Homo sapiens: one gene and its partners. The protein of the gene in region 1 interacts with the protein of each later gene in a pairwise test. Each region holds a gene or a part of one and is shown on either strand. Other genes may lie near its edges.

Region 1 (7,035 bases):
GTCACACGCCTGCTGCTTACATCTCGCTTTGACTATGCTGGTGGGTTTGATAAGATCTGGGACTACAAGCTACTTGTCTACGTAACTGATGACAACTTGATGTCTGACAGGAAGAAAGCGGAGGCTCTTGTTGAGACAGGAACAGTGACACTGAGTATTAAAGTCATTCCCCACCCAACCACTATCATCACCACGACCCCCAGGGTAAGGGCTTTAGGACCTGGAATCCCCAGGCACATTCCCTTGTGAGTTATGTTGATGGACTTCTTTCCCCGGCCTGGAGGTATGTGGGGTGGACTGAAGAGTTGAGGTATTAGGATGTTGCCAAAAATGGCAACCATGGGCTGGACTGGAGTAGCTGCAGGGTGGCAAAAATCTGGTGAGACCTCAGACTCATAACCGCTAACTCAACCACTAACATTTCCTGTTCTGGTAGAGAAGAGTGTGTTGTTTGTGCAGAGACTTGTGAGAGATCAGACCTCAACCATCTGTGTGGCTTGTGGCACAGGAGCTGATTTCCATGGGCATGCTGCCAGTTGCTACCTTCACAACCCCTCTCTGCTTGTTCAGAAGAGTCTTTGCAAGTCAATATCCATGAAATTAGGTTGCTTGCTTACTGCTGGGTGCTCTTTCCCACATCTTTTGAAGAATCACCAGGTACCAATCTGTACCCTACACCCCACCTCCGCTCCAAAAAAATTCATCCAATCTACAAATATCGATTTAATGCCTATAGTGTGCCAGTCACTTTAGCAAACAAGCCAAAAATGATCCCTGCTCTCAGAAAGCTTATTGTATAGGCGAGTGATTCTCTAAGTGCGGTCCCTAGACCATCAGAATCAGCACCACCTGGAAACTGGTTGGAAATGCAAATTCTCAGGCCCAGCCTAGATTATTAAAGTTATAGGTTACCCAACCATGATCATCACCATGACCTCCAGGGAAGGATGCTGGAACCTGGAATCCCCAACTCTATCCCCTAACCTAATGAATCCGAAGCTCTGGAGGTGGGGTCCAGTGAGCTGTGTTTTCAATCAGCCTTTCAGGGAATTCTAATGTGCATTAAAGTCTGAGAGCCACTGATCTAGAGGGGGAGATAGATTACAAACAAGTATTCAAATTGACAAAGTAAATACAGACTGTGGGAAAGGGTAGGAAGAAAATGACCAGGTGCTATCACAGAATTGGCCTGGAGAAGGAAGGGAGAGCCTTGAATCTGACAACAGGATTATCTTCCCTGCCCCTTGGAGGAACTGGCTTGCATCTATGCTGACTCATCTGTCCCCTTTCTTCCTCCTCCTCTTCCTCCTCCTCCTCCTCCTCCTAGTAGAAGCTGCACCCCTGGTCAGCAGCCTGATACCTGCAGCATGCCAGAAGGAAGATAATCAGAACCTTAGAGAACCCACTATGGAGGTGGCCAGCTTCTTCTCAGAGTCTTGCCAGGAGCTGGTTCATGCTTCTCTCTCCCATGCTCGAGTCAATATGACCCCAGTGAATGGAGGCATATGGCAACCCTAGGACTTTCCTTGTGGGAGGAGCTGGTAGGCTCTCCTGAGTGAGGAGTTCCCACCTTTCTTGGGCTCAGAGCATGACCTGATTGTGACATCTCCAATCCTGAAACCTCCGTAACTTGTTTGTTATCTGTCTCCAGCTCTAGGAAGCAGATGCTGAACTTGAGGCTTTGCTGTGATATCAGCCCACTGCTCTGGCAGTGGCAGCTTGTAGTTGAGAAAACACTGAAAAGCCTACAAGGCATTTAAAAAAACAACTTTCGTGGCTTATGCTGTCTCGGTGAGAGACAATGGCTATATTCGTCCCTGGGTTATGCCCAGATATGGCAGAAAAAAAGCCAATGGAGTTTTTTTTAGCTTTGGGGAAGGGGAAGACAGAGAATAAAATAAGGCCTAGAGTTGTTTTTCAGTTCCCTAAAATTTCTGGGTTTTGATCTAATGGATGTCTGCAAAGACTATAAATAAGGTGATGGGTTGAAGCAGCAAGAACTGTGAGCACACAGATGTCCAACTTATAGAGCAATAACAATAACAAAGAGTGGAATAAACACTCAACACGAGAGAGTGCTGAATGTCAAAATCACTACCACCCTCTACTCACCCTCCCTGCTCTCTGTTGTTCAAGCCCAGGGTCACCTATCAGGTCCTGAGGAAAAACGTTTACTCTCCATCTGCATGGTACGTGCCGTTTGTCATCACTTTGGGCTCCATATTGCTTCTGGGTCTCCTCGTGTACCTGGTCGTCCTATTGGCCAAAGCCATCCACAGACACTGCCCCTGCAAGACTGGGAAGAACAAGGAACCTCTGTAAGTTGCCAGTGGGCTGGGCCCTCTTCCCCACCTCCTTTAGGACACTGTTTCTGGTGACATCAGGAGAAGGAAAAATGGAGAATCAGGATTTCTCTACAAGGCAGGTTGCCTGGAGTGAAGGCAGGAAAAGGAGATACGGGGGAAGGAATCCCAGCTCCCCTCGGTCCTGGTGCACTTTCTTTGTCACCTGCTAGGCCAGGAAACCATCCTTTTGGCTTTCCCTGGCAACCTACTCTGTCCTTGAGGCTCTTAATAAGACTGGGGCATCAACCTTCTGATGACCTTGCCCTGGATAAAATCTTCAGCAAAGCCCTGTTGTAAATAGCGATAGAATATGCCGTGCTCTTATTTGTAGAATATTTAAAGGATAGTATGGAATTAAGGCAAGCACACAAAACCAATAAGGGAATTAAGCTTTTGTCTCCAGTGACTCAGCCGGGTTTTTGTGTGACCAAATAATTCTTGGTGTTTTGCTTGTGGTCTCAGTCTCTCACTCTTAAGGGTTGTAAACGCAGGCCTGTTTTCTCTTTTTCCAGTTTTCAGCTGCCCACTAATATGCCTCTTATTGTGCCAATCTGTGATGTGTCTTTTACTGGCTAAAGTGAGGTAGTAGAGTGACGTGAAGAGAGCACCAAAGAATCACAAACTTCTCCCAGAGCCAAGCTCCTTGATTCTCAGTAGCTCTTACAACTTACAGCTTAGATGGTTCTGAGCCTGAGTTTTGGAGTTAGATGGGCCTGAGCTCAAGTCTTAGCTCTACCATTTTCTTGGAATATGGCTTTGAGCAAGTGACCACCTCTGTGAACTTGAATTTTCTTATTTGTAAAATTAATCAACTAAATGAACAAATGTAAACAAGGCACTTAACTGTATTCCTGATATAGAGTAAATGCTTAGTACACTACCCAGCCAGTTTTTACAAATCTTGTTTCATTATTCTTCACAGATGAGTCCCAATGAGTTCAGGATTCTAGATTCCAAGTTTAGCTCTATGCCCAAGTATCTTGAGGTGTTGGAACCTCTGAGTTCTAGGATCTCTCAATGGCAAAAAGAGGGGGTGATAAGACATGTGTGCCTTTTACGGGTATTTTAAATATTAAATATTAACTGTCAAATAAGAAAATCTATGGATGAAAGACTGTATAAAAGTACAAGGCATTAGAATAAAGATGTGCGTTGCATTTTGCCATATTTATTGCGGAAGTTTGTTGCTATTGGCAACCTTGACTTCAAGGTAAGAAATCCTCGAGCATCTGCTGAAATTAAAAAAGGCATTTTTGTTTGAACTCTATTCACAAATTGATTTTTTTAAAAAAAAACAGCTCTAAAAGAGTAATTGCTTGTAAGGATGGTGGTGTACTGTACTGGGATTTGGATAGAAGTTCTTGAAGAAACAAATCCAATAGACACTGCAACTCTCATGTAATTTATGGCTAAACGTTAAATATGCACCTTGAACCTGGTTCTTTTAACTTATGTTGTAAATATTAATTGTTTTCAACATGGTTGACTTAAAAAAGAAAAACTAGCTAGAAAACCAGACTCAGACTCAACCTCTCTGGAAATTAGTTATACCATATGACAGCCAACTTTGTCAAATAGCAAAGAAGAAAATTAGGGTTACAGAGCTATAGAATCCAAGGTGATCATGGGAAATCTCGTAGGGTCTGAGTCCAGCTCTTCATGTGACAGGAAACCAAAATGTAACTGCCAGCTCTCAAACCTCCCTGTTGTGAGCCAAGCCTTCTGCTCTGCTGGCTCTTGGGGAGAAAGGGATAGGGCAAGAAGACTCGCTGGACAGTCTGACTAGGGCAGGCATGTCCTCACCAGGTTTTCTCATCAGAAACAATGTATTCCCTGAAGTTTATAAGGTGATACTTTTCAACTCATCAAATTCCCAGAACCTCCCTAGTCCAAAGCCAATAGTGATGAAGCTGCTTTGTTCGAAGCAGGCGTGGTGATCTAGTTTTCTTTCTGGCCCCTATCCCTGGCACCTCTTTCAGTCAACCCCTGTATCTCAAAGGGCATAGTTGCCCAAAGAACCCCATGGTGTCATGTGTGTGCCAGTGCAGCATACTTTCAAGTGAATTAATAGCCATTCTTTTTCCCCCCATAGGACAAAGAAAGGAGGTATGTACAGTACCTGTTTCCCTTGTCTGTTGTTTTTTGCTTGCTCTGTTGTGCTACGTAAAAAGGTTCCTACTCGGCAAAGAATCAGGCCGCGATCACATCTTGGAGCATTTTCAGCTGCATCTTCTGTGGCTGGAAGGAAGCGGAGGTCGGTTGCAGCTGGAGAATGGGAAGGGTGGGGGGACAGTGCCTTGGCCTGCCTGGATATCTCAATTTGGTCCTGCCTATGCCCTACCTAGAGCCCTCGCCAATCAGCTCAGCTGAACACCTAGGTCTGTCCCTTGCTGCATGGCACAGGAAGAAAGAACTCTCCGTGTGTTAAATGTAGACAGGACCTGCTTACTGCAGCCCATGGAGGGTGTCCTGAGGACAGCTAATGCTTTGTGCTGGACACAGGCCTCTTTTGAAAGAACAGATAAGGCTGGGCGCAGTGACTCACGCCTGTAATCCCAGCACTTTGAGAGGACGAGGTGGGTGGATCACAAGGTCAGGAGTTTGAGACCAGCCTGGCCAGCATGGTGAAACCCCCGTCTCTACTAAAAATACAAAAAATTAGCCGGGCATGGTGGCACGCACCTGTAGTCCCAGCTACTCGGGAGGCTGAGGCAGGAGAATTGCTTGAACCCAGCAGGTGGAGGTTGCTGTCAGCCAAGATCACGCCACTGCACTCCAGACTGGGCGACATAGTGAGACTCTGTCTCAAAAAAAAAAAAAAGAACAGATAATATTTGATTCCCAGATTCTAATGGATTTGATCATTTCCACAAATTATTTAGGTTAGACTAGTGAGAAGGGGGAGATGAGGGTGGTGAGATGGGCTGAGAGCTGACTGACTTCAGAGAAGTGGGTAAATTGGGAAGGTCCATCTGAGCAGCTCCAGGTCTGAGGAGGTGTCCTGGCTTGGCCTCAAGTAGACTCCAGAGTGTGGGGGAGACAGGACAAAGAATTGGACAGTGTTTTAATTAAAAAAAAAAAAAGTTTGCTTTAATCACTCCATCTACAGGCATGTGTCTGACATGCTTAAGGCATGTCTCAACAGGGTTAGAAATTTGATTATAGTGGTTATTGATCATATTGACAGAGATGATTTTAATAAATGAGATTTTCACAAACTGTCTCTAATCCCACTTTTTAAAAAGGGGATGGGGGCTGGGCATGGTGGCTCACACTTATAATCCCAGCACTCTGGGAGGCCAAGGCTAGAGGATCACTTGAGCCCAGAAGTTCGAGACCAGCTTGGGCAAGATAGTGAAACCCTGTCTGTAGAAAAAAAATTTTTAAATTAGCTGGGTGTGGTAGTGTACGCCTGTAGTCTTAGCTACTGGGGAGATAGCTGAGAGGATCACTTGAGCTCAAGAGGTCAAGGCTGCAGCGAGTTGTGACCGCACTCTAGCCTGGACGACAAGAGTGAGACCCTGTCTTAAAATAAAATAAAATAAAATAAAATAAAATAAAATAAAATAAAATAAAATAAAATAAAATAAAAGGGCTTGGGAATTAATGCACAAAACCCACACCTTATGAACAGAGGTATCCAATCCCATCTTTCTTTCTTATCTTAAAAGCCATGTAAAAGCCAGTTTTCTAGGTCCACTGATAATAAGCTAGAAAAAGAATAAAAAACAACTAAATTGTTCGTATGTTATTGTGTGTGTGTGTATACATATGTGTACGTATTTTTTTCTGAGAAGATGGAAAGTTGTCAAGAAACATATCTATAGACAGAACAATTCTTTGCTGTGTCTGCAAGACTGAGATCGAAGCCTATTTAGGGGAAATACCGTTGTGGAGGTGGAATTTTAAGGTCAATTTACCACCCAAGAAGCTTAACTTCTGCCTGTTCTGTTCTCTGCAGAAACGAAGACTGCAGAGAGAGACGTCGTGGTGGTGAGTATGGGCAGTGTGGGGCACCAGGCATAGACGCTGGGGGATAGGGGCTCCCGTCTCCCCCGAAGGCAGGCCTGCCACAGCCTTGTGGGCATGTTTATCATTCAGGGAGGTGCTTGTGTTTGGCTACTGGAACAGATTGCTGTGTGACGAGCTCCTGATAGAATTTGTTCCCTCCACTGAACATGCCTGCTGATATATTTGCAGAAGAACAGGATTTCATAAATATTGAGTAGTGGTGTTTATTATCTATACCAGCTCTCCACGAGAGTGAGTTGAGGGAGTGAAGCTTAAAGACCAAAACTAGTGCTTCAGCCTCCAGTGAGATTTAAATTTTCTTTCTTTCTTTCTTTCTTTCTTTCTTTCTTTCTTTCTTTCTTTCTTTCTTTCTTTCTTTCTTTCTTTCTTTCTTTTTAAGACACAGTTTCACTCTGTTGCTCAGGCTGGAGTGGAGTAGCACAATCTCGGCTCACTGCAACCTCTGCCTCCTAGACTCAAGCGATTCTCATGCCTCGGCCTCCCAAGTAGCTGGGATTACAGACACGTGCCACCACGCCTGGCTAATTTTTTGTATTATTAGTAGAGATGGGGTTTCACCATGTTGGCCAGGCTGGTCTTGAACTCCTGACCTCAAGTGATCCACCCACTGTGGCCTCCCAAAGTGCTGGGATTATAGGCATGAGCCACTGCGCCCAGC
Region 2 (7,035 bases), on another chromosome or scaffold:
TCCATGTTCCTCATCTGTCCTGAAGGGTGAGCCTCAGGCAACGTCCCATCTTTCTCCCCTCCTCTGCACATCACCTTCTCCTGTGCCTTAAACATCACCTGAATCTGCCCAGCAGGGTTCCAGTTCTGGTTCACATCATCTGTCACATAAACTATCTGCACACTCTCCTAACTGTGCTCCCGTCTCCCAAATTCCCAATCATGGGCGAAACAAAGGCTCTTTCTGTTGTAAGCCAGGGCTCTTAGAAGTCTCTATGCAAGTCCCATAGCTCAACTGGAATGGAGAGGCCCTCCCAGCCAAGCCAAGCAGAGGGGAGGGCAGAGGTGGGACACTGCAGTGGGGCAATGTACCTGTCAAAGGAGGGCCGCTCCCCAGCATCAAAAGCGTCTCTCAGCTGCTTCACCAGGTTGTCCTGCCCAGGCAGACGGAAGATGCCCTCTTCATTCCGGCCGTGCTCCAGGATGAACTCTGCACATTTCTCCACCAGGATGGGCACCAGATGGGGGCCGAATTTCTGTTCATAGGCCACAGTCTCATCCAAGCGCTGGCCAAACACTGCTGAGGAGAGAGCAAACAGAACCTGCCCGTCATTCTGTGCTTCCTTGGATGAACTATTTCTTGACTTTCTGTGTCACCTGTGTCTTCACAGGTTTTATTGCAATGATACTAGACAAAATATGGGAGATAAATCACTCAGAATATTTCCTGAAGCTATAAATAGGGGCCTGTAAATTTGAGGCAGTCTTTATCAGTCTTTTTATATTGACCCACATTTCTTACATATTTAAAATAATGGTTGGCTTTTACTGAATTCTTTTGCTAGGAATTGCACACTTTTTGTCCTTTAACCTTGACAGCAACCCCATGAGATGGTATTAATGTCACACGCACCTTACTGTTAAAGACACTGAGCCTTAGACACTTGCCAAAGTCAGGCAGCTCAGAGCATGACACAGTTGGGATTCAGGCCTAGGCAGTGAACTCCCAACAATATGCCTTAACCACGGCAGCAAGCAGGCCGTTTTGAGTTCCACTGGCGTCACAGAGTAGTAAAGCATAACACAGTATGGCATCCTCCCTTATCCACGGTCAACTGCAGTCTGAAAATATTAAATGCAAAATTCCAGAAACAAACAGTTCATAAGTTTTAAATTGCATGTCATTCTGAGTAGCATGATGAAATCTCTCGCGGTCCCGCTCGGTCCAGCCTAAGATGTGAGTCATCCCTTTGTCCAGTGTATCCACGTTATATACACTACTTGCCCAGGAGTCGCGTAGTAGTTGTCTCAGTTATACTTAGTAGTTGTCTCAGTTATAAGACTGAAAAGACATAATGTGTATAGGGTTCAGTACTACCTGAGATCTCAGGCATCCACTGCGGTCTTGAAATGTATCCCCCCAAGGATAAAGAGGGACTACTGTAGTCTATCACATAGATGTTTCATCTCACTAAACCACTGTGGCATTTAAAATAATTTAGGTTGTTTACTATGTCCTAATTATAAACATTGCCACAGCAAACACGTTCATTCACCTGGCAGAGATCCTGGAATGTATGCAGTACAATGCATAATTTCTAATTAATTAACATTTGGATGCATGAACAAAAGCGTTTCATTCTTTTGAACTATTTCCTTAGGACAAATTCCCAAGTGTAGAATTACTGGGTCAAGAGGTTTGAACATTTTTATAACTTGATGGCATGCAAATTGCTTTCCAAAAATATTTTCCCAAATTACCCTGCCTCCAGCAAAGCAAGTGTGGGCCAGCTCCACCCCAGCTCTGTCTGCGTGGAGAAACTTTGCTCCACAGTTTCCCCGCACCGGCAGTGTGAGAAGACAAATTTACAAATCAGGACAACCACTGCCTATCCATTCTCCCACCAGGCTTCCATACCCTGGAGGTTCAGAAGACAGGCCGTGGCTTCTGTCCTGTCCTGCGTGACTTTCCCTCTGCCATAATCAGGGCTCTGCTGCACCCAGCACTTCAATCCCTAGGACATCCGTTTGCAAAGTCACTTGACTCTCCCCATGATTCTCTCTCTCACGTTGGTCCCCTCCATCCCACCTCGAGTTCCTGTGGATTCCACCTGTATAGAGCTGTACCAGGCTCTTGACCCTCATGTTCTTTTCCGCTCCTACCCACTACCCAGCGTAGGCCAGCCTCCTCTCTCACCTGTAACCGCTACAGTCTCTTCTCTCTATCATGTTCGAAACCCTCCTGCTGCTTGCCTTTCTAAAGCATCATTCTGCTTGAGCGCCTTTCTCTTGGTTTTCAGTACTCATCTGCTTCTCTCCCAACTGCCACAGTGATGGTTTTCAAATAGACATTTAAAGCCCTGGCAGTTCATCAGGGACTCCTCTTTCATCACATCAGGTGTTGGGAGGTGAGAGTGTGGAATCTAGAAGGAGCTGAATAGGTGGCCTCTGTATTCCCCACTACCACCAAATCTGCTTGGCTGTTGTTCGTTTCACTTATTGCATTGCGGTGAGACTGTGATTAGATACTTCTGTGGCTAAAGTTTGAGAATCAAGGCTGGCATTCCTCAAGGCTTGGCACCCACCTGCTTTCCTGGCCTGATGTCCTGCCATGCCCCAAGAAGCAACTCACACTGACGTTTCCAAAACGTAATGCTCTGCAGTCTCCATGTCCTTGAACAGTCTCCTCCCTGTCCAGTCTGCTCTCCCCCTTCCCTGGCTGCACCAGGAGGACAAAGAGGACAAAATTCTTTTTCTCCTCCTTGGCCCCTCTCAAATATCATCATATCTGCCATGCCTTCCTGACATCCAGATGGAGGGACTACATCCTACTCTGTGCACCGTATTGTTTCTTGAATATCCCAATCCTTCCCGCACTCTGTGATCATGATTTGTATGTACCTGTGTCATCTGCATGATTGTAAGCTCCCTGCTACTGAGAATAGGAGGAAAGGCTGTTTTCATCCCCAATGTCTAGTGTAACCCCTGGCAAAAGGTAGACAGTCAACAAATTTTGCTGAAGGATTTAATGAATCAATTTGTCTTTAAGCAAGTATTTCACATGACTAATGGTTATTCGGCATTTCTTTAGTTTAAACACTAATAGGAATCTCCTTGATATATGAATTCAGCTTCCCACTAGCATGCATTGAGTGCCCTGCCATGTGCCAGCACCAGGTTCCATGGAATGGGTTGTACAGACAAGGGACATGGAAGACCTTGTTCCTGCTTTTAATGAGTTTGCCAACAAGTTATGAAAATAACATAACAGATGGACTGTCTGCCTTTGAGGGGTCACACAAAACATGGTGAGAAACAATTAGAAAATTTCAATAACCATATGGAATTAGGTTTCTATTTGTCTGTAAAAGGAGCTGGACAGATCTTTTCACCAAATTGATAGGACATGATTGAAATATTCCGACTTAAAACAGACCAGATAGCATCAGGAAAATTCTCTTTTGAGAGGTCCAGAGAGGGGCCCTTCAATGAGAGAGGCAGATGTCTCTTGGAACAGTTGAAACTCAGGCTCCAGAGGTCCACTGGACTTGATGGGGAAAGATAGCACAAACACAATGTAAGGATGTGCACAGAGAAGTCAAAGCTTTCAAATTCAAGCTCCATTTCTGAGGTCTTATAGGAGATGCTCCACCTTGCAGATGATTTGGGGCCAAGCTCCTTCTTGCACCTTAATATATGTCTAGTTCTCTAGCTTTTCTCCTCATCCCAGTCTATCAGCCTTGTCCTGCCTTCATCCTCTATTTCTCTCATGCCTCAAATGCAGCCCTTTCAATATTAATCTGACCCATACTTTTTTCTTCAACATCCCCGCCCTGCTGCTTCCTACTACCCTTTGCGTGTCTTCATCAGGCCACTGAGAACTACAAAAGACCATGCACAACCATATTGTGGAAATTTATCCTTCCAATCTCTGCAAGACACTGGTTCCAAATTTTTGCCACTCCTGTTGAGCTCCCCACCCATTCCCTCCCTTCTCTGTCTCAACAGGTGATCTTGGCTCCTCTTTCCTTCCATTATCAAATGGAGGGTTACGAGTGAACTCCCTCATCTCCAGTCCCTGCCTTTCCCATCCTTTCTCCTCTGTGTTCCTGTCTTCTCCCAGAGGAAGAAAAGGGCCCTACCTTTCATCTAGGATGATGCCTTCTTGAACTGTGGGTTCCATTCCTTCCATCTCTTCCAGTACTTACTGTTTCTCTTTGTATGTTGAAATTTTCTCTTTCAATTGAAAGATCCCACGTGGGTCTAAGTCTTTGCCATTTATGAAAGAATAATCTCCCACCTCAGTTCTCATGCAAATGACCAACATTTGCCTTCCTTCTCTTTACCATATACTTGTAATAAAAATGTCTACTTCTAGAGAGATGTCTGCCCCACTTCCTCACTTATCACTCACTACTCAGCCTCTCAACCCATCACAATCTGGTTTCATTAGCCTGCACTTCTTCACTAAATCTGCTCACTAAGATTTCTAGTGCTCTCCTAATGTTCATTCCACACCCTACTTACTGATCTTCTCTGAAGACTGATGTTGTTAATTCTCCTTCCTCTTCAATACTTTCTCCCTACATTGCAATAAATCCAATCATTCCTGTTCTATGCTCATGTCACTGATGACTCCTTTCAAGTGTCTTTGACTGTGCTCCATCTTCCACCTGCTCGTTTGGTGCATCATTTCCTGGGATTCCAACTCAGGCTTCTTTTCTTCTCACTCTAGTATTCTCCTTAGGAAAGTGCATATGATTCCACACATTTAGATATCACCTATAAACTTATAACTTATTAATCTGCATATCTGGTCCAGATCTCTCTCTCTATATATATATATATGTATGTATGTATATGTGTGTATATATATGTGTATATATGTGTGTGTATATATATACACACACATATGTGTATATATGGATATATGTGTATATATGGATATATGTGTGTGTACATATGGATTGATAGATATAATTTATGAAAGAATAATCCCCCACCTCAGCTCTCATGCAAATGACCAACATTTGCTTTTCTCTCTTTAGTATTATACTCATAAAAAAAGTGTTTTATTTTATCATTGTATATGTAGTTATATCATATCTATTTCCATCTTTTCTCTCTCTCTCTCTCTCTCTCTCTTTCTCCTCTATTCCCATAAGTTCAATGTCTAATGGCAATTCTCCCAGTATCTTCTCTAATCTCACTATCATCCCATCCCTAAATCACTGCTTCTCCTGTAGCCTTCCTCAAAGGCAATAGCTTCATTCCATCATCAAGTGCCAGGTACTCTCCTAGGCACTGAAAATACAAAGCCATTAATACAAGGTACCTGCACTTAACTAACCCAATTAGCAAAATTGTGAGCATTAGAATTATCCGCAACACTCTTCACTCTCCCCAAATAGGTTGGCACATTCTTTTTTTTTTTTTTTTTTTTTTGAGATGGAGTCTTGCTTTGTCATCCAGGCTAGGGTGCAGTGGCGCAATCTTGGCTCACTGAAACTTCCTTCTCCCGGGTTCAAGAGATTCTCCTGCCTAAGCCTCCCGAGTAGCTGGGACTACAGGCACGTGCCACCACACCTGGATGATATTTTGTATTTTTAGTAGAGACGGGGTTTCTCCGTGTTAGCCAGGAAGGTCTCGATCTCCTGACCTCGTGATCTGCCCACCTTGGCCTCTCAAAGTGCTGGATTACAGGCATGAGCCACCGCGCCCGGCCTAGGTTGGTACATTCCAAATATGCTTTAAACAAGCTCCCTATTCCCACTGCTGCTGCCTATATCGTTATAATGGTTTCTTTTGCAACTCTGTTTCTTGCAAATTCCTTCCACCAGAATTCACAAAGTCATTCAACAAATGTAGGCTGAGCATTTGCTGTGGGCCAGGCTCTTTGATAGTTAGAGAGTATGAAAGGAAGAATGAAAAATGGTTTTTGCTTTTAAAAAATTCTCAAGAGAATGCCCTTCCTCCTACTCTCCACCTGGAAACCCAGTCTTCTGAATTTGGATGTCTTCTCAGAGAAAACTGGTCACTCTTTCCTCTACTCATAGAGCTCCCTGTGTGTTCCTCGATGTTATCACTGTCATGTAATTTTATGATGATTCACTTAAACATCCCTCTCTTCCACTGGACTGTGGACCCCTCAAAGGCAGACAGTCCATCTGGCTCAGCATCTGTTTTCAGAACCTGGTATGTGATGGACCTCAGAGAGCTGTCACTACCTGCTGCCTCCCATTCCTCCCATTCTCTGCCCCTTTTCTCTACTCAGTACTTCCCCAAACCTATTCTTGTCAAGGAGACCAATGGCCTTTACATTTTAAAATCTGAGATGAAATTCTCTGTCTTCATCTTAACTACTCTATCAGCAGCAAGTGATACAGCAAGCCACCTCCTTCTTCTTGGGACACTTTCTCATGTGGCTTTTGGCACACCAGTCCCTCTTGGTTCTCCGTGTGTCTCATCAGATGCTTTTAGCCTCCTCTGAGGATTCTTCCTGTCCTTGCTGTCCTCTACATGTTGGAGGGTCCCAGGGCCTCCCTCCCTCATCTGCACACTTTCTCAGAGTCTCACCACTTTAAATATCACCCATATGATGAAGACTTTGAACTTGACATCTGCAGCCTAGAAATCCGTCAAAGCTATTCTCTCAACAAGAACCAACCACTGGATGCTCTGGAGACATCAGGACCAACAGTGTCACTTCTTACATGAGAGAAAAATCATCTTTGTTTTTTTTTAGCTTGGCTAAGTCAGGTTTTGTCACTCTTAATCTCAGATCACATGAGGAGTTTGGAATCAGAAACATCCCTGGAACTCCAAAGACCTGGTCCTGAGTTATACCAGTGTCTGACCTCTGGGTCCTAATTGTCACCCCTTTGGCCATTAGCAGAGCATTTCCATCTTAATAGGTATAAATTTTCATGAATTTATTATAATAATTATAAGTAATATAATTACCATAATGTAATTATAATATATGTAATATGATAATTATAACTATTAACCAATGTAATTAATGACATTAATTTTATGCTGAGAACTGACCCCAGAT
Region 3 (4,080 bases), on another chromosome or scaffold:
GGAAAAAAAATCCCAAAATATTTGGAAATTATACACTTCTAAATAACCCATGAGTGAAAGAGGAAGTCACATTTGAAACTAGAAGATATTTTGAACTTCATGAAGGTGAAAACACAACATATTAGTATCTGTGGGATGCAGCTAAAGCTGTGCTTAGAAAAAAAAATCCAGCATTAAATATTTATATAAAAGAAAAATATTCTCAAATCAGTGATCTTAGCTCCCCAATATTTTTAAGATGTCAGTTTTCCCCAGTTTGATCTAAAGAACACAATTCCAGTCAAAATTTCAGCAGGCTTTTTTGCAGAAAATGACAAACTGATTCTAAATTTTATGTAGAAACCAAAAGAATTAAAAAGACCTAGAAAAACCAAAATAATTTTTGAAATGAAGAACAAAATTGGAGGACTTATTTTTGAATGTACTAAGGACATGAGTTGTTGATACAAGAAACAATGGAGATACTCTCAATAGCATTATGCTAAGTGAAAGAAATCAGACACAAAAAGCAACATACCATAGGATACAGTTTATAAGAAATTCTAGACAAGTCTAAATGATGGTGACAGAAAACAGATCAGTGGTCCCCAGGGCCAGGGGCTGGGAGAAGGGAACTGGCTGCAGACAGATGCAGAAACTTGCATGGTGATGGGAATGTCCCATGTCTGGATAACGATGGTGGTGGTTATATGACTGCATGCATTTGTCAAAACTCATCAAATTGTACACTTCAAACTGGGAAGTTATTTTTCAATAAAGCTACAGTAATTAAATAAGTCACTTTTTTTTTAATTGCTGTCAAATAGAACAAGAGTGAGGACGTGGAACAGCCAGGCAGAGCCAGCCTGCAGCGGATGGGGCCCAAGCAAGTGAGGACTCAAAGGCCCCAGGAAGTGGGGCTGGATTTCAGGCTTTTGGGATGAAGCCAGCTGAGAGAGGCTGAGCCTGTGTCCCCAGAAGCTCCAGGAGAGGATTTGAGGTGCTGGAGGGGGCATCGCAATGGAGGGGGCACCTGAGCAGGTGGAAGGAGCTGGGCTCCAGGTACCTGGTGTGGGAGGATGCACGTTTCCCAGAGGCAGCCGGGAAGTAGGGTGGGTATCCATGAAGAGGGGTGCATCTGAGTGCTCACGTGGAACACGCTTATGGGCTTGGGTTTGCCCTGTGAATTGGGAGCTGAGAAGGGCAGGCAGATGGGAGGCTAGGTGAAGGGAAGACCCCTCAAGGCCTTCTCACACCCAGACACCAGCTCCCAGGGCTGACCTGGCACTGCGTCCCTGGCTCCCATCTTGCTCCCCCGAAGGACATCTGCCTAGGCGCCCCCAGTGGGTGTCAATGATGACCTAGCCCCTAACCCCCATCTAAAGCCCCTCCCCAAGGCCTCAGCTGTCAAACTGTGAAAACCCCAGACCCAGAGGCCTCTTCAGGGTCCAGGGAGGAGCAGCAGCCTGGGGCTGTGGTTGCCCTTCTCCCCAGCCTCACCCCTCCCCACAAGTCCCACTCCTCCCCACAAGTCCCACTCCTCCCCACCAGGCCCCAGCCCTCCCCACCAGCCTCACCCCTCCCCGCCAGCCTCACCCGTCCCCACAAACCCTCCCCTCCCCGCCAGCCTCACCCGCCCACTAGCCTCACTCCTCCCCACCAGTCCCACCCCTCCCCGCCAGCCTCACCCCTCCCCGCCAGCCTCACCCCTCCCCATCAGTCCCACCCCTCCCGGCCAGCCCCAGCCCTCCCCACCAATCTCACCCCTCCCCGCCAGCCTCCTCCCCGGTTCCCATCAGCCATCAGCTCTGCCCCACTCTGGATGCCCTGGACTGACTATGTGCAATTCTCCCACACGACTCTTCTTTATGTGCAGAAAATGCCAAGTCTCACTGGAGCGAGTGGGAACCCACAGCTCCCGAGGACAGACTGGAGATGACCTGAACCCACTAATCAACCACGAAGATTGCTTCTTTGTGACTTTTGGGCAAAACTCACGAGGGCAGCTGCAGGACACAGCCCGGGTTGCTTTGACAGTCACTGAATCCACTTCTCCCGGTGGGTGGGGGCATGGCTATGGAGCCATTCGGGCTCCTGCCCTGGAGGGTGACTCTGGGGCCCATCCTCCCGAGTGAGAAGCAGGTGGGTGTGGGGAGCTGGGCTGGAAAAGGTGGGGTCTGGGGCTGTGGGCCCTGTCCCTGAGAGTCCCCAGCCCTGAGTGATGCCACCTCTCTGGGCGGTCACTAGCCTGGGCCCAGAGATGAGAGACTGATGTGACACACACTCACCCCATGGGAGGGAGGCTGCAGGTTTAAGGGCCCTCCTCAGGACCCTGTCAAGTTCCCAGAATCCCTCCCAGAAATACTTTTATTAAAATAAACTGAGCAAGGCCAGGCGGCTCAAAATGATCCACACAAGGGGGTTCAAAGATAATCCAACGATGGAGACAGGAGACAGGGTGGGAGGGAAGCGGGTCACGAATGCACAGGAAACAGCGGGACTGTGGGAGGACACCCTGCAGCCTCGGGCCCTCCAGCTGGGCTGACAGGCAGGCTCTGGGCTTTGGAGGCAGTGAGGGTCAATTCGGGGCTCCATGGGGCGTCCTGTCCCTGTGTGCCTTCTGCGTGTGCTTGCAGAACAGACCATAGAGCACCCTCAGTGTGCTCTTGGCATCCTTGTTCACGATATCTGCGGGCCAAAGGAGGGCAGGGCAGCCAGTCAGGCCTGGGTGGCAGTGACCGACTGTCCCGATGTGGTCAAGGTTTCCTGGCATTCAGGATTTCAGTGCTAATCCCAGGAGAATCCCTGGAAGCCAGGACAGCTGGTCACTCCAGGCCTGGGTCCCGCGCCTGCTGCGTGACTGCCTCCTCCTCCTGGCCAGTCCTCCTCTGAATGCTCCTGTGGTGCCCCCAACACAGCAACTCCTCAAGGTCTGGCTTCTCTGGACAACCTGTCCCCAGAGACCTTGGTCTCCCCCTCCCCAGAACCTCTTCCCCTGGGGCTGCAGTGCCCCCTCCCAAGAAACCTTGGCAAGCGCCCATTCTCCACCCCTGCCAGGCAAGAGGACTCTGCCAATGCGTGCTCATCCCCCAATGCCCTGCACCCTGTTCTGTGGCTCTCGCACAAGGCTGCCACCCAGGGCTGGCCACCGTGTGGGCATCTGCCTTGCACTCACCTTCAGGGCTGACAGGGCAGCTGAGCAGGCCCTCGTCCTTCAGCAGCTCCAGCGCCAGGGTGACGTTGTGCAGCTATGATGACAAGGCCCTATCAGATGTGGGCACAAGCAGCAGCCCCAGGCCAGGCCTTGGGTCCCAAGTGCCAAGCCCTTCCTGTTGTCTGTGATGTCCATCATGAGCCTAAACTCCCATCCAAGGTGGGCATCCCTGACCACGACCACAATCCGTGGTCATCCAGCATCTCCCTACAGCTCACTCTGTCACACAAGCAATCCATGTCTCATTCCTCAGCCACTCACAGGCCCCACTCTGAGCAGGTGCTATACCACACTGGGCACACGCTTGCGTCCAGGGGCCACTGCCCGTGAAAAAGGCAATCGCCAAGGAGGATACCCAATAGGGATCAGGGAAGGCTTCCTGGTGGAGGTGAAGCCTGGTGGTGAGTCCCGCCAGGCAGGGAGAACTACCCAGGGAAAGGAGCAAGGGCCTGGGGTGGCAGAGCACCTTTGAGAACAGCTGTTTCCCAGGGCAAAGCACAGTGAGGAAATCAAGGCTCAGAGGAGCCAAGGGGCTCACTGGAGCTCACGAGACAGAAAGCGCTCAAACCAGGTCTGTCCGCTCCAATGCTCATGCAAAGCAGGCTAGAGACTGGAGCGGTCCCCACCCAGGTGGCTGTCCTTTCCGCCACCCCTTGCCTGGGGTGCAGTCTCAGAGATGGCTCCCTTTAGGGTGGAGAGCGCCCGGGCATCAGTCAAGTCCCCCAGTGATTCAGAGCTCAGCTTAGTCCCTGCCCAGGGCCTCCCCTTGCTCCCCTGCAAAGTGGGCTCACCACAGTTCCCCTGTGCCTTGCTACAGGATATGGTGAGAGCCCAGGAGCCTGCCGGCCCTCCCACAGTAGGTCCCCTCCCTTTCCATTCTAGCTTCT
Region 4 (7,035 bases), on another chromosome or scaffold:
GCTTGAGCCAGGGAGGGCAAGGCTGCCGTGAGCCAAGATCACACCACCACACCCTAGCCAGGGAGACAGAGCAAGACTCTCTCTCAAAACAAACAACCAAAAAAAAAAAAAAAACCCACATCATCTGCAAAGCTATGTTGGGAGCACAGCCATTTCCCATAGGCTTTCTTTTTCCTTGCCCCATTGCCTTCCGGGAAGTTTTCCCCTTACCCATCATCACGATTTTTCCCATCTTTCACGATGGTGCAATTCAACAGGATGAATTAACTGAACTAGAAAAGGATAAAAAAAATCTAACCCTATGAAAACTCTGCCTTCAACATAACTCCAGGGAGACGAATATTATACTACTGGCACCTCTGACCCACACTATCCTCTGTACCCCGTCCCTGCCCACATCCTCCTTTCTGGACACTTAGACGTCAGGTTCCCCAAGCGGCAAGGTTCCGTGAGGAGCACCACCAGCTCCTTAGGAGAACTGGCACTGCTCTGGCTCCTCTGACAACTGGGGCTGGCACTGCGGGCACCACCAGGTGAGCCTCTGTAACCCATCTTCGGGCCCAAACGCCTCCTTCATGACCTGGTGGCCAGCAGGGCACTGTTCTTTCTGGTAGACCTGTGTGTGCTGCGGTCTGCCTTGGAACTTGCCCTGCAGCCAGGCTGTACTGAACTCCACCACGTGATCCACCAGGACCTCCCGACGCGAGGCACTCAGGACTGAACCGAGAGAAAGGGGATGGATCCCAGCTCTGTACAAGGCTTCATTCTTAATGATGTTCCCTGAAATAAAGCGGGGGAAGGTAAGGGAAGGACAAAGGACACATGGCATGATGAAACCACCCACAAAGTTAACAAGGCAGAAATCAGCTCTTCCATGTCCTGGGGGACCCTAGACGGGTCTGCGATCTCTGACTCCATTTCTCTGTCTGTAAAATGGAGTTGACAATTCCTACCTTTAAGGTTGCTGTGAAGATGAAATGAAACTCATGCATGGCCCGTCATGGCAAACAGGCTATCAAAAACGGATCGGGCATCTGACTGCCTGCACTTGAATCGCAGCTCAAGCAGATCCTACCCACGTGACCCTGACAAGCTCCTCAGCCTCAATTAGCTGCAGTTTCCTTATCTGTAAGGCAGGGATGGCTTACCTGGTTTTTGTGAGCATTAAATGAGAATTCACCAAAAGACGCTGAGCACAGTGGCTGGTATGTAGAGTACTCAATAAGTATTAACTGTTGTTATTATTTAAAATGTTGGCCTGGCGCATTCCTGTAATCCCAGCACTTTAGGAGGCAGAGGCGGGTGAATCACTTGAGGCCAGGAGTTCAAGATCAGCCTGGACAACATGGTGAAACCCCATCTCTACCAAAAATACAAAAATTAGCCAGGCATGGTGGCACCTGCCTGTAATCGCAGCTACTCAGGTGGCTGAGGTAGGAGACTAGCTTAAACCTGGGAGGTGGGGCTTGCAGTAATCTGAGATTGTGCCACTGCACTCCAGCCTGGGCAACATGGCAAGACCCTGTCTCAAAAAAAATTTTTTTTTAAATTAAAAACAAAATGTCAAGCATAGCTAGGCACAGTGGCACACGCCTGTAATCCCAGCACTTTGGGAGGCAGAGGCAGGAGGATCATTTAAGCCCACAAGTTCAAGACCAGCCTGGGCAACACAGTGAGAGCTTCTTGTCTCTACAAAAATTTTAAAAATTAGTGAGGCGTGATGTCATGCACCTGTAGTCTCACCTACTCAGGAGGCTAAGGTGGGAGGATCGCTTGAGCCACAGAGGTTGAGGCTGCAGTGGGTTGTGATTGTGCCACTGCACTCTGGCCTGGGTGACAGAGAGAGACCCTGTGTCAAAAAATAAAATAAATGAAATACCAAGCATAATGCTTGTTATGTAGAAAGTGTTTCGGGAGCTGTTATCTTATTATTTTTCTACTCCTGCCTCATTCTCTGTGAAGCCAGCCTCGATCCCTCCTTCCAGAATCAGTAACTCTCTTGGGAATGTTCCAACCATACTCTTTCAGCTCCACCAGGCATTCATTGCAATCTTTAGTAACCCACAGTGGACTGAGTCCATGCTTGCTGGGCCATTATACAATGATCTCCTTAAGGAGAGGTGGTGAGCGTGACAGAGCTCAAGTGAGTGTCTGTGTGTTTGGAGTGAGTGGGTGAAGGAAATTCCTGCTGTTTCCAAGAGCCTCATAGTCACACTCCTCATTACACACATCAGTCTCTCCAGAATTCATTGACAAAACACCTGGATTCACATCTCAGCTGCACCATTTACTAGCGATGTGTTCTCTGCTTCAGTTTCCTCATCTGAAGGAAGGGAAAAGCACTATAACCATCCTACAGGACAGCAGTAAGGACAAGAACATGTGCCTGGCACATCAGAGCTGCTTGGAAAACACTGGCCGTTATTAATTACTACTGTTACTGTTAGCTCTTGCCATATATACCCAAAAAGCCACTTCCGACGGCTCTTCGCTCCTGAGTGCACAGGGACTCCCATGGTCCTAACATGAAAATGCAAGGCAAGTGCCTGCTGTACCACCTGGCCTCCTCCGACCCTCGTGAAGGGTGGTGAGCAGGCAGCAAGGCCACATGTTGGATATGGAGATGACTCTGTCACCACCAACCTGCCTGATTGCTTCAGCAACCAATTTTGGGCACAATTATTCCCCTACTGTGAGTAATAAGAACGCCACGCTGTCATAGTCCCGCTAATTAGCTGTTATATGTATTTTTGAAATTGTTCAGCACTTCTCCCTATCCTGAAATGCTCACAGTTTCACTGCTCACGCCACTGCAATAGAGAGAGGGAAACAGCTTCTTCACTCGCGTCGCATAAGAACCCAGTGTAGACTGAGTCATCTCTGTGCCCTGGCCAGGGCAGGAAGCTCCATCCACCCAAGAGCAGCATCCCTTAGAACACGCGCTCACTGCTCTGTTAGCAGCCTGCACGACTTCAGTTCCTACAGACACAGGTCAGGCACCTCCTACGTGCAGGCGCTGCACTGTGCAGTGGAGGGTACAGAGGTGCCGGAGACATGACCCCACCCTTTAGGAGGTGATGCTCCAACGCTGCTGGCAGAGGGCTCACAACTGATAACACAGTTAGGGTGTGGATTCTGAAGCAGAGAGACAAGTTAAAAACTGCCTGATCTAATGCCCTCAGTCTAAAAACAAGGGAAGTAAAAGAAAGGAGATTGAGCAAGTGGCACCTCAAAACCAACAGCACTGGCACAACTAGGGTGGCCCTCAGGTCTTCTGACTCCCACAGGACCGACTTTTCCATGAAGCAACTCTGTGGACTCACCCCTTTCCCATGAGTCATACCTAGCCCTGAGAAGTATCTCTGGTCCAGCAGTGTATAGCAGACAGGCTGAGCCTGGCCTAGAGCTTCTAAGGCTTGTCCTCGATGGAACTTCTCAGACAGGATGTCACAGGTGGGTGTGACCACTGGGGAAGAGCTCCAAGACAACTGACAATTATAAAATGCCAGGAAGCCACCACCACCAAAGTGCAGGACCAACCTGGGAAGAAAGAACAGGTCATATGTACACATCGTTACCACAGTATAGTCAGAGCACACCCTGTGGCTGGGTCATACACACATACACACATCCCCACATCGTTACCACAACATAGAGCACACTCTGTGGCTGGATCATACACACATACAGACATCCCCACATCGTTACCACAGTATAGTCAGAGCACACTCTGTGGCTGGATCATGCACACATACACACATCCCCACATCATTACCACAACATAGTCAGAGGACACTCTGTGGCTGGATCATACACACATACACACATCCCCACATCGTTACCACAACATAGAGCACACTCTGTGGCTGGATCATACACACATACACACATCCCCACATCGTTACAATATAGTCCAAGCACACTCTGTGGCTGGATCATACACACATACACACATCCCCACATCGTTACCACAACGTAGTCAGAGCACACTCTGTGGCTGGATCATACACACATACAGACATCCCTGACTTACAATGGTTCACTTTTAATTTTTGATTTTATAATGGTACAAAATCAATGCACACTCAGTAAAAGCCATACTTTGAGTACCTATAAAACCTTCATTTTCAGTACAGCATTCAATAAATTACGTGAGATATTCAACATTTTATAGAACAAGCTTTGTGTTAGATGATTTTGCCCAACTGTAGGCTAATGTAATTGTTCTGAGCACATATAAGGTAGGTTAGGCTAAGCCCAGATGTTTGGTAGGCTAGGCATATTAAATGCTTTTTTGACTTATAATGTGTTTTTTTTGAGATGGAGTTTCATTCTTGTCACCCAAGCGGGAGTGCAGTGGCACTATCTTGGCTCACTGCAATCTCTTCCTCCCAGGTTCAAGCGATTCTCCTGCCTCAGCCTCCCGAGTAGCTGGGATTACAGGTGCATACCACCACACCTGGCTAACTTTTTGTACTTTTAGTAGAGATGGGGGTTTCATCATGTTGGCCAGGCTGGTCTCGAACTCCTGACGTCAGGTGATCCACCTGCCTCGGCCTCGTAAAGTGCTGGGATTACAGGTGTGAGCCACCACACCCAACCTAATATTTTCAATACTCCATATACCCTTTCCATATAGAAAGGATATATAAAGCTAATTTTATTTATTTATTTATTTGGAAATAGGGTCTTGCTCTGTTGCCCAGGCTGGAGTATAGTGGCACAATCACAGCTCACTGCAGTCTCAACCTCCCTGGCTCAAACTACCCTCCCACTTCAGCCTCCCAAGTAACTGGGACTACAGGTATGCACCCCCACACCCGGTTAATTTTATTTTATTTTTTTGTACAAACAGGGTCTTCACTATGTTGCCCAGGCTAGTCTCTTACTCCTGGGCTCAAGTGATCCTCCTGTCTCAGCCTCCCAAAGTGCTGGGATTACAGACAGGAGTCAGTATTATACCTGGCAAGCTAATAGTATTTATTTCAAAGACCAACAAAGTAGATAAACTCAGGCCAGCCTATTAAAGAAAAAAGAGACAAAGCAAAGTAAACATAAAACAGGTACATGAGAAAAGAGACCTAACCAGGTAAAAAGAGATTTAAAAATAATGGCATGATACACATTCACTCTACGGCACTATATCTGAAAACCTAGGGGTGAGCCTCCTTCGGGGAGCACATTTCAATGCCTCCAGCTGGTGACTAATCCAGGACTCAGCAAAGGGCAGGCTCCTGATGATGACAGGTTTGCTGGGGGTTCTAAGGAAAGTTTCCTCATCTGAACTTCTAAAAATGATCTGCTCTTCTTCTGGATTTTTTGGTGTGAATAAAATCCTGGAGCTGCAGTAGCCTCTTGCTGCTGGTCTAAGGAGAAAACCAATGCGTGGAAAGTGCAAAGCCAGGAGAATCACAAAAACAGGAAGCCAGAACCTTGGAACGGCAGCCCCAAAGCCCACCCTCCTTCTGAACTTCCAGTCATGTGAGCCCAAAATCTCCAGACCACAGAAGCTACTCCGAGTTATTTTTACAGCCCATAGCATCCTATGGTACCTACGTCAGGCCACACAAATAAAGACTACACTTCTAAACATTTTTACAAGTTATAAAACTTCAGAAAATAGAAGGCATGTGACTTTCTCTGGGGGCAGAAGGGGCCTTTTTTTAGCAAAAGGGGAAACCTACAAGCAACCAAGAAAAATACCCACCGTTGATGATATAAAAATTTAAAATCCCAAATGCCAAGAGACATCATAAGCACAATCAAAGGACAGAGGACAGACTTGAAACAATACTGGCAACACATGTCACAAAAACAAACAGACTTTCTGTGCAAAAGCTTCATTACATTGATAAGAAGTACACAAACGACCTAACATTCATGAGATTTCAGCTCAGCTAGCACTTTCCTAAGGCCAGAAAAATGTACAGCCCTAAGAATATGCATTCCCTCTGACCAGCAATTACTCCTCTGGGAATTGACACTGAGGACATATCCTAAACCTAGATAGAGTCTTATGCATAAAATGTTGATCTCAACATTCATAGATTATAAAAACTGGGGCCAAGCATGGTGGCTCACGCCTGTAATCCCAGCACTTTGGGAGGCGGAGGTAGGCGATCGCTTGAGGCCAGGAGTTCCAGACCAGCCAGCCTGTCCAACATGGTGAAACCCCGTCTCTATTAAAAATACAAAAGTTAGCCGGTGTGGTGGCACGCACCTGTAGTCCCAGCTCCTCCGAGGCTAAGGCAGGAGAATTGGTTGAACCTGGGAGGCAGAGGTTGCAGTGAGGCGAGATCGTGCCACTGCACTCCAGCCTGGGCCAACAGAGCAAGACTCCGTCTCAAAACAAAGCAAAAAAACTCATCAAGCTGAATACTTAAGATCTGCATTCTACTGAATGTTAATTATATCTCAATAAAAAATAAACACACAAACAATATACTTAAAATAAAACTGGGAAAATCTTCTCCCTAAATTCAAAGCACACTAGTCAGGAGTCAGGCAATAAAATGTTCTTCAGGGACAGTCCCCCCTCAAGTGCCACATTTGCTGGGAAAATTCTCCCCTTCTCCCAGCCACCTCTTGGTGCACAACCCTCTCCTGCATGCAGACCACAGTCTACTTCCTATCACAGGTAGATACAGAGGTGGCCTCTCTCCCCAAGACAGCAGGGCCCTGGGGGGCAGACTGGACGTCCTCAGTATGTCCCCACTGCTGAAGTCCCAAACCCCACCAAGCAGGGCCCTATGACTATCAGAGCCCACGAAAATCAGATGGCCACACCATTACCTCGGGGAAGGGTCCCTCCAGTCCCCCCTCTTGTTGGCTTTCTTGGCTCTGGAGAAATCGTTCACCCAAACGCTGCCAAACAAACCAAAGCTGACACGCAGCCACCTCCCAGCATCTCCTGCAGGGGCGTCTCTCTCCAAATACTCAGAATCATCCTCGCCCTGGGGGACGAGCTCTGCAGACCGTGAGGATCCATCAAGGGTCTTCTGCCCGCTGGGCTCCCCGACCTGCTTTGGGTCCGCA

Evidence for each region.
Region 2: the proteins of CDHR3 (region 1) and ARHGAP25 interact in binary tests that used the Homo sapiens proteins (3 or more experiments, as listed by UniProt).
Region 3: the proteins of CDHR3 (region 1) and PARVG interact in binary tests that used the Homo sapiens proteins (3 or more experiments, as listed by UniProt).
Region 4: the proteins of CDHR3 (region 1) and NEIL2 interact in binary tests that used the Homo sapiens proteins (3 or more experiments, as listed by UniProt).

What each region holds. Positions count from the first base shown.
Region 1 is NC_000007.14:106,022,245-106,029,279, forward strand, and holds part of CDHR3 (cadherin-related family member 3 isoform 1 precursor), read left to right. Parts: coding exon 1-204; intron 205-2,136; coding exon 2,137-2,318; intron 2,319-4,437; coding exon 4,438-4,451; intron 4,452-6,306; coding exon 6,307-6,338; intron 6,339-7,035. UniProt on the Homo sapiens protein: Cadherins are calcium-dependent cell adhesion proteins.
Region 2 is NC_000002.12:68,800,796-68,807,830, reverse strand, and holds part of ARHGAP25 (rho GTPase-activating protein 25), read right to left. Parts: intron 1,103-7,035; exon of another isoform or gene 892-1,102; intron 559-891; coding exon 351-558; intron 1-350. UniProt on the Homo sapiens protein: GTPase activator for the Rho-type GTPases by converting them to an inactive GDP-bound state.
Region 3 is NC_000022.11:44,204,904-44,208,983, reverse strand, and holds the end of PARVG (gamma-parvin), read right to left. Parts: intron 3,228-4,080; coding exon 3,155-3,227; intron 2,668-3,154; coding exon 2,558-2,667; 3' UTR 515-2,557; downstream 1-514. UniProt on the Homo sapiens protein: Plays a role with ILK in promoting the cell adhesion and spreading of leukocytes.
Region 4 is NC_000008.11:11,779,708-11,786,742, reverse strand, and holds part of NEIL2 (endonuclease 8-like 2), read right to left. Parts: coding exon 6,793-7,035; exon of another isoform or gene 6,221-6,792; intron 3,541-6,220; coding exon 3,344-3,540; intron 781-3,343; coding exon 470-780; 3' UTR 1-469. UniProt on the Homo sapiens protein: Involved in base excision repair of DNA damaged by oxidation or by mutagenic agents. Has DNA glycosylase activity towards 5-hydroxyuracil and other oxidized derivatives of cytosine with a preference for mismatched double-stranded DNA (DNA bubbles).